2 linked regions of the Homo sapiens genome follow. The protein of the gene in region 2 purifies or fractionates together with the protein of the main gene of each other region. This does not show direct contact. Each region holds a gene or a part of one and is shown on either strand. Other genes may lie near its edges.

The links. The genes of interacting proteins can lie anywhere in the genome.
Region 1: the proteins of AKIRIN1 (region 2) and SEC13 purify together in Homo sapiens (affinity purification with mass spectrometry, with the first as the bait; one large-scale study listed by BioGRID). This does not show direct contact.

The regions. Positions count from the first base shown.
Region 1 is NC_000003.12:10,307,613-10,311,341, reverse strand, and holds part of SEC13 (protein SEC13 homolog), read left to right. Parts: intron 1-3,729. UniProt on the Homo sapiens protein: Functions as a component of the nuclear pore complex (NPC) and the COPII coat. At the endoplasmic reticulum, SEC13 is involved in the biogenesis of COPII-coated vesicles.
Region 2 is NC_000001.11:38,994,092-38,997,985, forward strand, and holds part of AKIRIN1 (akirin-1), read left to right. Parts: intron 1-3,894. UniProt on the Homo sapiens protein: Molecular adapter that acts as a bridge between proteins, and which is involved skeletal muscle development. Functions as a signal transducer for MSTN during skeletal muscle regeneration and myogenesis.

The sequences.
Region 1 (3,729 bases), on a different chromosome or scaffold from region 2:
ATAATTTGTATCTATTCTTTTTCTAATCTACTCATTCCAGTTCAGGGTCACAGGTGGTTGGAGCCTGTCCTGGCAGCTTAGGGCATGAGGCAGAAGCCAGCCCTGGACAGGATACCATTCCACCAGAGGAGCACTCACACACACCCCCACACTCACACTGGGACAATGCAGACGTACCATTGAAGTGAACATGCACATCTTTATTGTGTGAAAGGAAACCAGAGTACCAGGAGAGAGCCCACGCAGACACAGGGAGAACACACAGACTCCACACAGGCAGGGGCCCCCGCTGGGAGTTGTTTTTTTTTTTTTAATCTTGTCAGCATTATAATGAAATGAAATTGAGGATCAGTTGTACATAGAATGAGACAATCTGTGGTCTTTTGTGACTGGCTTCTCCTACTTACTATAATGAGTTCAAGTTTCATCCATATCATAGCGTGTATCAGCACTCCATTCCTTTTTATGGCTGGATAATACTCCATTGTGAATATAGACATTTTGTTTATCCATTCATCAGATGATGGATGTTCTCGGCCTTATGAATAATGCTGCTATGAACATTTGCAGATAAGTTTTTGCATGAACATATGTTTTTAATTCTCTTGGGTCTATACCTAGGTGTGAAATTGCTGAGTCATATGGTAATTCTGTGTTTAACTTTTTGAGGAATTGCTAAACTGTTTTGCAAAGTAACTGTACCCTTTTACATTCCCATCAGCAGTGTATGAGGGTTCTAATTTCTCCACATCCTCACTAACATATGTCTGTCATTTTGGTTACAGCTGTCCTAGTGAATGTGAGGTGGTATCTTATTGTGATTTTTTGGGTTTGTTTTGTTCTGTTTTTTTGAGACGGAGGCTTGCTCTGTCACCCAGGCTGGAGTGCAGTGACATGATCTCGGCTCACTGCAACCCCCGCCTCCCAGGTTCAAGCAATTCTCATGCCTCAGCCTCTTGAGCAGCTGGAATTACAGGCACACGCCACAACACCCGGCTAATTTTTGTATTTGTAGTAGAGACAGGGTTTCACCATTTTGCCCAGGTTGGTCTCAAACTCCTGGCCTCAAGTGATCCGCCCACCTCAGCCTCCCAAAGTGCTGGGATTACAGGTGTAAGCCACCACACCCGGCCCTTATTGTGATTTTTATTTGCATTTTGCTAATCAAAGATGATGGTGAGCATCTTCTGGGGGCCTTTGGAGAAATGACCAGGAGGGGTTTGCACTCTGTAACACCGAGTGAGTGGAAGCGGCCCACAATAAGAAAGGCTGAAGGGGCGGGAAGAAATCTGAGCTCTGTGATCCTCCAGAGCAAGCCTCTGGGACAGGGCCCCTCAGGAGGAAGAACTGCAGGAAATGAAATCACAGTTGAGCTGGATAGGGACACAGGAAAGGAAGGATGAGATGTAGACCAATGTGGGGAAGAGGAACAAAGACAGGAACTCCTGAAAGCCATCTCCCACGTTTTTTAACACCACACAGAAACAAGGGAGAGTTCTGAGCTTAGACTTTCCTGAGCCTTTCTTATCAGGAAAACTCATCTCACCTAAAAATAACAGAAAAGTATTTGAAGTGAAATTGCATACAGTTGTTATATAAGAAACAAGAATATGCAAAATAACCTCCCTGCGGACAATGAGAGCACATTAGAAAGACATGCCCACATAACCGAGCCAAGCTGTAACCTGCTATTTCAAATCAAGCCAGGTGACATTCTAACAATACAAAACAAGAGAGAATAGTGTAAATCAACTTTTTAAAAATCAGAAATAAGGTGACAGAACTCAGGAAAGAATTAGAATTAAAAATCATTTCAGAAGTAAAGAAAGACTAAGACGAAATGCAAGTGTCGATGAACACAGCAGATCCTGCCTGAAAAGGATAAACAGTGTGAAAAAGGAAACATTTCAAGAGCAAAAAAATGAAGAGGTAAAAAGGTTTTGACCAAAAGTAAAGACAGGCAGAAAGGTCAGACATACGAATACCAGGAGTCCCTGGAAAGGAAAACAGAATACCAAAAAGTAATCCAGAAAACTTTCTTAAAATTAAAAAACAAAGATTTGAAACTTGAGATTGAGAGATCATACCCCACACTTAACAATATCAGCCGGGCGCAGTGGCTCAGCCTGTAATCCCAGCACTTTGGGATGCTGAGGTGGGCGGATCACCTGAAGTCAGGAGTTTAAGACCAGCCTGACCAACATGGCGAAACCCCGTCTCTACTAAAAATACAAAAATTAGCCAGACGTGGTGGCGCACACCTGTAATCTCAGCTACTCGGAAGGCTGAGGCAAGAGAATTGCTTGAACCCGGGAGTCAGAGGTTGCAGAGAGCCAAGATCACGCCATTATAATCCAGCCTGGGCGACAAAGCAAGACTTGTCTCAAAAAAAAAAAAAAAAAAAAAAATCAAGGCCAGGCGTGATGGCTCAGCCTGTAATCCTAGCACTTTGGGAGATCGAGGTGAACTCCTGTTTGAGGCCAGGAGTTCAAGACCAACCTGGCCAACATAGTGAGACCCCGTCTCTAAAAAAAAAAAAAAAAAAAAAAATTCAACTCAGCATCACCAACAAAAAGATATAATTCTAGTAAAATTATTAGACTTTAAAGAAAATTTTGGGGGGTTCTAGAGAAAAGGAACCTTGTGACTTAAAGGGGAAAGACAATTAGATTATTGTCAGACTCTTCAATAGTAAGGATTGGTGCAGAAGAAAAAAGAATAACATGTTTAAAATACTCCAGGAAAGAAAGTGTGAGCCAAGGATTTATAACCAGGAAAATTGACTTTGAAGTTCACACAAAGACTTATACACAAAAGGTTATAGCAGCTTTAATAGCCAAAAACTGGAAATAGTCCACATGTCCATCAACAGGTAAATGATAAGTTGTGATATATCCATACTTTGGAAATACTGCGAGCAATAAAAAGAAATGACTGCAATAAAAAGAAATGACTTAACAAAATAAGATGAAGAATAAATTTCAAAATAATTATGCTGAGTGAAAAAAAGAAGAAAAAGGACACACTGTGATTCCACTGCTGTAATATCTAGGAAATGCAGCTGAGCAGGCCCATGGTCACCACGATTGGGGGCTGCAGGATGGGGAGATGGATTACCAGGGGATCCGAGGAAACTTTTGGGAATGATGGGCATGTTCCTTATCTTGATTGAGGTGATGTGATGATCCTACAGGATATATTTTTGTCAAAATTCACCAAATCATGCACTTGATATGCAGTTTATGTCAATTATACTATATCAAAGCTGTTTTTAAAATTAGCTTTTGAGTGTAAAGGATATGAACTATTATCAATATGCAAGAATTCAGGGACTATTGTTTCTAGGAGCCCTTCCTGAGAAATCTACTAGAGGATACAAGTCACACAACTAAAATGACTACAAAGACTTCAGCATAAATATATAGTTACTTGTAGAGAACTAAGACGAAATGAGGGTTAAAAGGCTGGGCCCAGGGCAGGCACAGTGGCTCACACCTGTAATCCCAGCACTTTGGGAGGCTGAGGCAGGCGGATCACCTGAGCTCAGGAGTTCAAGACCAGCCTGGCCAACATGGCAAAGCCCCATGATGTGGTTTGGCTGTGTCCCCACCCAAATCTCATTTTGAATGCCCATGTGTTGTAGGGGGTAACCAGTGGGAGTTGAGTCATGGGAGGAGGTCTTTTCCATGCTGTTCTCTTGATAGTGAATAAGTCTCACAAGATCTGATG
Region 2 (3,894 bases):
AATTAGCTGGGCAATTTTTCTGAAATCCGAAATGCTGCAAAGTCTGAACTGATCCAAAAATTGAGTGTCAATATGACACTCAAAGGAAATACTTATTCACTGGAGTTTTTCTCATTTGGGGTAAGGGATGTTCAATTGGTAAGTATAATGCAACTATTCCACAATCCAAAACTTCTGTCTCAAGCATTTTGGATGAGGGATGCTCAATCTGTATGGTACTTTTTGTGGAAAGGTCCTGTAAAACTAAGCCTTTTATTGCTTAAATCTTTATTGAGTGCTAGGTGAATTCCAGACATGGAAGAAGGGGGTTGCTGACCGCAGGAAATATTTGTAAACGTAATGTGCAAAGCAATTAACTGATTATGACTTGAGAGTCTGAGAATAACTTCTGAATTAAGGTAGCATTTTAGCTGAGTCTTTTTTTGTTGTTTTTTGAGACAGAGTCACTCTGTTGCCCAGGCTGGAGTGTAGTGGCACGATCTTGGCTCACTGCAACCGCCGTCTCCCATGTTCAAGCGATTCTCCTGCCTCAGCCTCCCCAGTGGCTGGGATTACAGGCATGTGTCACTACGCTCGGCTAATTTTTTTTTTTTTTTTTTTTTTTTTTTTTTTTTTGAGATGACGTTTCGCTCTTGTTGCCCAGGCTGGAGTGCAGTAGCATGATCTCGGCTCACTGCAACTTCCACCTCCCAGACTCAAGCGATTCTCCTGCCTTAGCCTCCCAGAACGCTGGGATTACAGGCGCATGCCACCATTCTCAGCTAATTTTTGTATTTTTAGTGGAGATAGGGTTTCATCATACTGGTCAGGCTGGTCTCAAACACCTGACCTCAGGTGATCCGCCTGCCTCAGACTCCCAAAGTGCTGGGATTACAGGCATGAGCCACCACACCCGGCCTACTAATTTTTGTATTTTTTTTGTCAAGACAGGGTTTCACTGTATTGGCCAAGCTGGTCTCAAACTCCTGACCTCAGGTGATCTGCCCGCCTCGGCCTCCCAAAGTGCTGGGATTGCATGAGCCACTGCGCCTGGCTAGCTGAGTCTTGATCAAGTTTGAGCAATAGTCCCATTTCGAGCACAGGGAAACCATGAGAGCAAAGTCCAAAAAACCCACAATTTAAGGAGAGAATAATGTAATGTAACTAAATTATAGTGGAATCCAGATGGAACCAGGAAAATAAATTGAGGCCACATCTTGGAAAGTATTGACTGCCATGTTCAAGAGTTTGAATTTTGGTTTGTAGCAGTAGGAACACTGTAGAGTTTGGAGGATGGGCTTAGACCGGAAAAAATCTGGCAGCACAACCTCAAGTAATGGAGGGAAGGATTAAAATTATCCACTGTTAAAAAGAAATTTGAGTTTTTCTTTTTAAAAAAATTTTGTGCTTTATATGGCCTTCTACAGAAGAAAATCATGTCTAACTTTCTTATTTTTCTCCCATGGATACCGTGTTTAGATTCTTGGACTTCTTAGTCCTACCACCCTCAAAATTGTATCTTTCCATTTGTTAACATTGCCATACAGGAGGCAGAGGTTTATCAAAGACCTTCTGTTCTCTTAAGCGTTGTCCTCATACTTGTCCTTTCTTGTTTCAAGTATTTGCAGTTCTTATCCTTGTATTGGCTCTGGCTTGAGGAATAAGACATCTTAAAATACAGGGGGCTAGCGGTGGCTCACGCCTGTATTCCCAGCACTTTGGGAGGCCGAGGCGGGCGGATCAGCTGAGGTCAGGAGTTTGAGACCAGCCTGGCCAACATTGTGAAACTCTGTCTCTACTAAAAATACAAAAAATTAGGTGGGTGTGGTGGCGGGCTCCTGAAATCCAAACTACTCTGGAGGCTGAGGCAGGAGAATTGCTTGAACCTGGGAGGTAGAGGTTGCAGTGAACTGAGATTGTGCTATTGCACTACAGCCTGGGCGACAGGGTAAGACTCTCTTAAAAAATAAAGTGAGGTGAAAACTTAATAAATTCAGGAATCTAAAATACAAACTTCATAGCACTGTTTTGTTTTGTTTTTTGAGACAGTGTCTTACTCTGTTGCCCAGGCTGGAGTCCAATGGGGTGATCTCGGCTCACTGCAATCTCCACCTCCTGGGTTGAAGCAATTCTCCTGCCTCAGCCTCCCAAGTAGCTGGGATTACAGGTGCGCACCACCATGCCCAGCTAATTTTTGTATTTTTAGTAGAGATGGTTTCGCCATGTTGGTCAGGCTGGTCTCGAACCTCAGGTGATCCACCTGCCTAGGCCTCCCAAAGTGCTGGGATTACAGGCGTGAGCCACCATGTACAGGCTTTTTTTCTTTTTTTTAATACTGGGTCTCGTTATGTTGCCCAGGCTGGCCTCAAGTGATCCTCCCACCTTGGCCTTCCAAAGTGCTGGATTACAGGCATGAGCCACAGTGCCTGGCCCATAGCACTCTTGTTTTTTTGTTTTGTTTTTCTATTTTTTTTTTGAGGCAGAGTCTTGATTGTGTTTCCCAGGCTGGAGTGCAGTGGCACAATCTCGGCTCAGTGCAACCTCCACCTCCCCGGTTCAAGAGATTCTCCTGCCTCAGCTTCCTGAGTAGCTGGGACTACAGGCACGTGCCACCACGCCTGGCTAAATTTTTTTATTTTTAGTAGAGACGGTGTTTCACCATGTTAGCCAAGATAGTCTCGATTTCATGACCTTGTGATCTGCCTGCCTCAGCCTCCCAAAGTGCTGGGATTACAGGCATAAGCCACCATACCCAGCTGGCCCATAACACTCTTAAAGCATCTCCTACATTGTTCTAGTATTTAGGCTGAAAGTTAGGGACTTTGACTATGTGTGGAACCACTTGAATTCATGTCAGTTCCTGGACTGTACTGTCACTTGTTATGACATTATTGTTACCTTTAGTTTTTATTTTTACAACCTTATCAGGTAGGTATTTAATGTTTACATTGAAGAAGTAAAGATCCTGAATAACTTCTCAAGGTTATAGTCACACAGCTAGTAAGAAGCAAAGTGGCATTGTTAATACCTCCCACCATTAAAAAAAAAAAGGTGGTTATAGCAAAGTATACACTAGAATAATTTGAGTTGTTTGAGATGGATACAGGTATCTCTTTTTTTAAATTAGTAGGTACAAACAAAGAACTTGAAAACCACATCCTTTTAGATTCTTTGTTGTTTCTAGGAGTGTATTTCAAGGTGGTTAGTAATTTGTGTTTCCTGGGCTCCCTTTAATAGTGTTAGCAAATTTGCTTTGTGATTACCTTGACTTATAATCTCCCCACACACTGAGTTGCCTCTTAGGATCAGAAAATTATTTTCTAAGCCCTGACCATCACTTCTAGGCATTAAATCTCAGTTCTTTCCTTGGTCGATGTCCACACTGTAAACATAATGGTTTCTGCTGCCCCCTTTCCCAAAGTTTATTTTGATTTGTTTTTTAGATAAATCACCCAGGCTCCCTTGTGGTTTTTTTTTGAGACGAGATTTTGCTGTGTTGTTCAGGCTAGTCTCCTGGGCTCAAGGGATCCTCCCGCCTCCCCCTGCAGAGTAGCTGGGATTACACCCAGCTTTGGAGCCACCACTTCCAGCTCCAAAGATGCTTTTTTAAAGTCCCATATGGGACAAGAGCTTCCTTGTTAGAAGGTCTTGGGCAGTATGAGACTCACCCCTTAATACCCTAGGTTGTGAAATTGCGAAATTTAAAGGAGATTAAAAAATAATCCCTGTTAGGTAAACAGAGGTTTCTTTTACTGTAAATTGTACTAGTTAACCATCCAGCTAACTGCAGATCTTGTGTTCTTTGCCACAGGAAAACAAGTAAAGGGAACTCTGTCTGGTTTATGCCAAAGTAGCTATTCTTTTATGCATTGTTGAAATAGTGGCAATAAGAACATACTGTCTTTGAAGCCACTG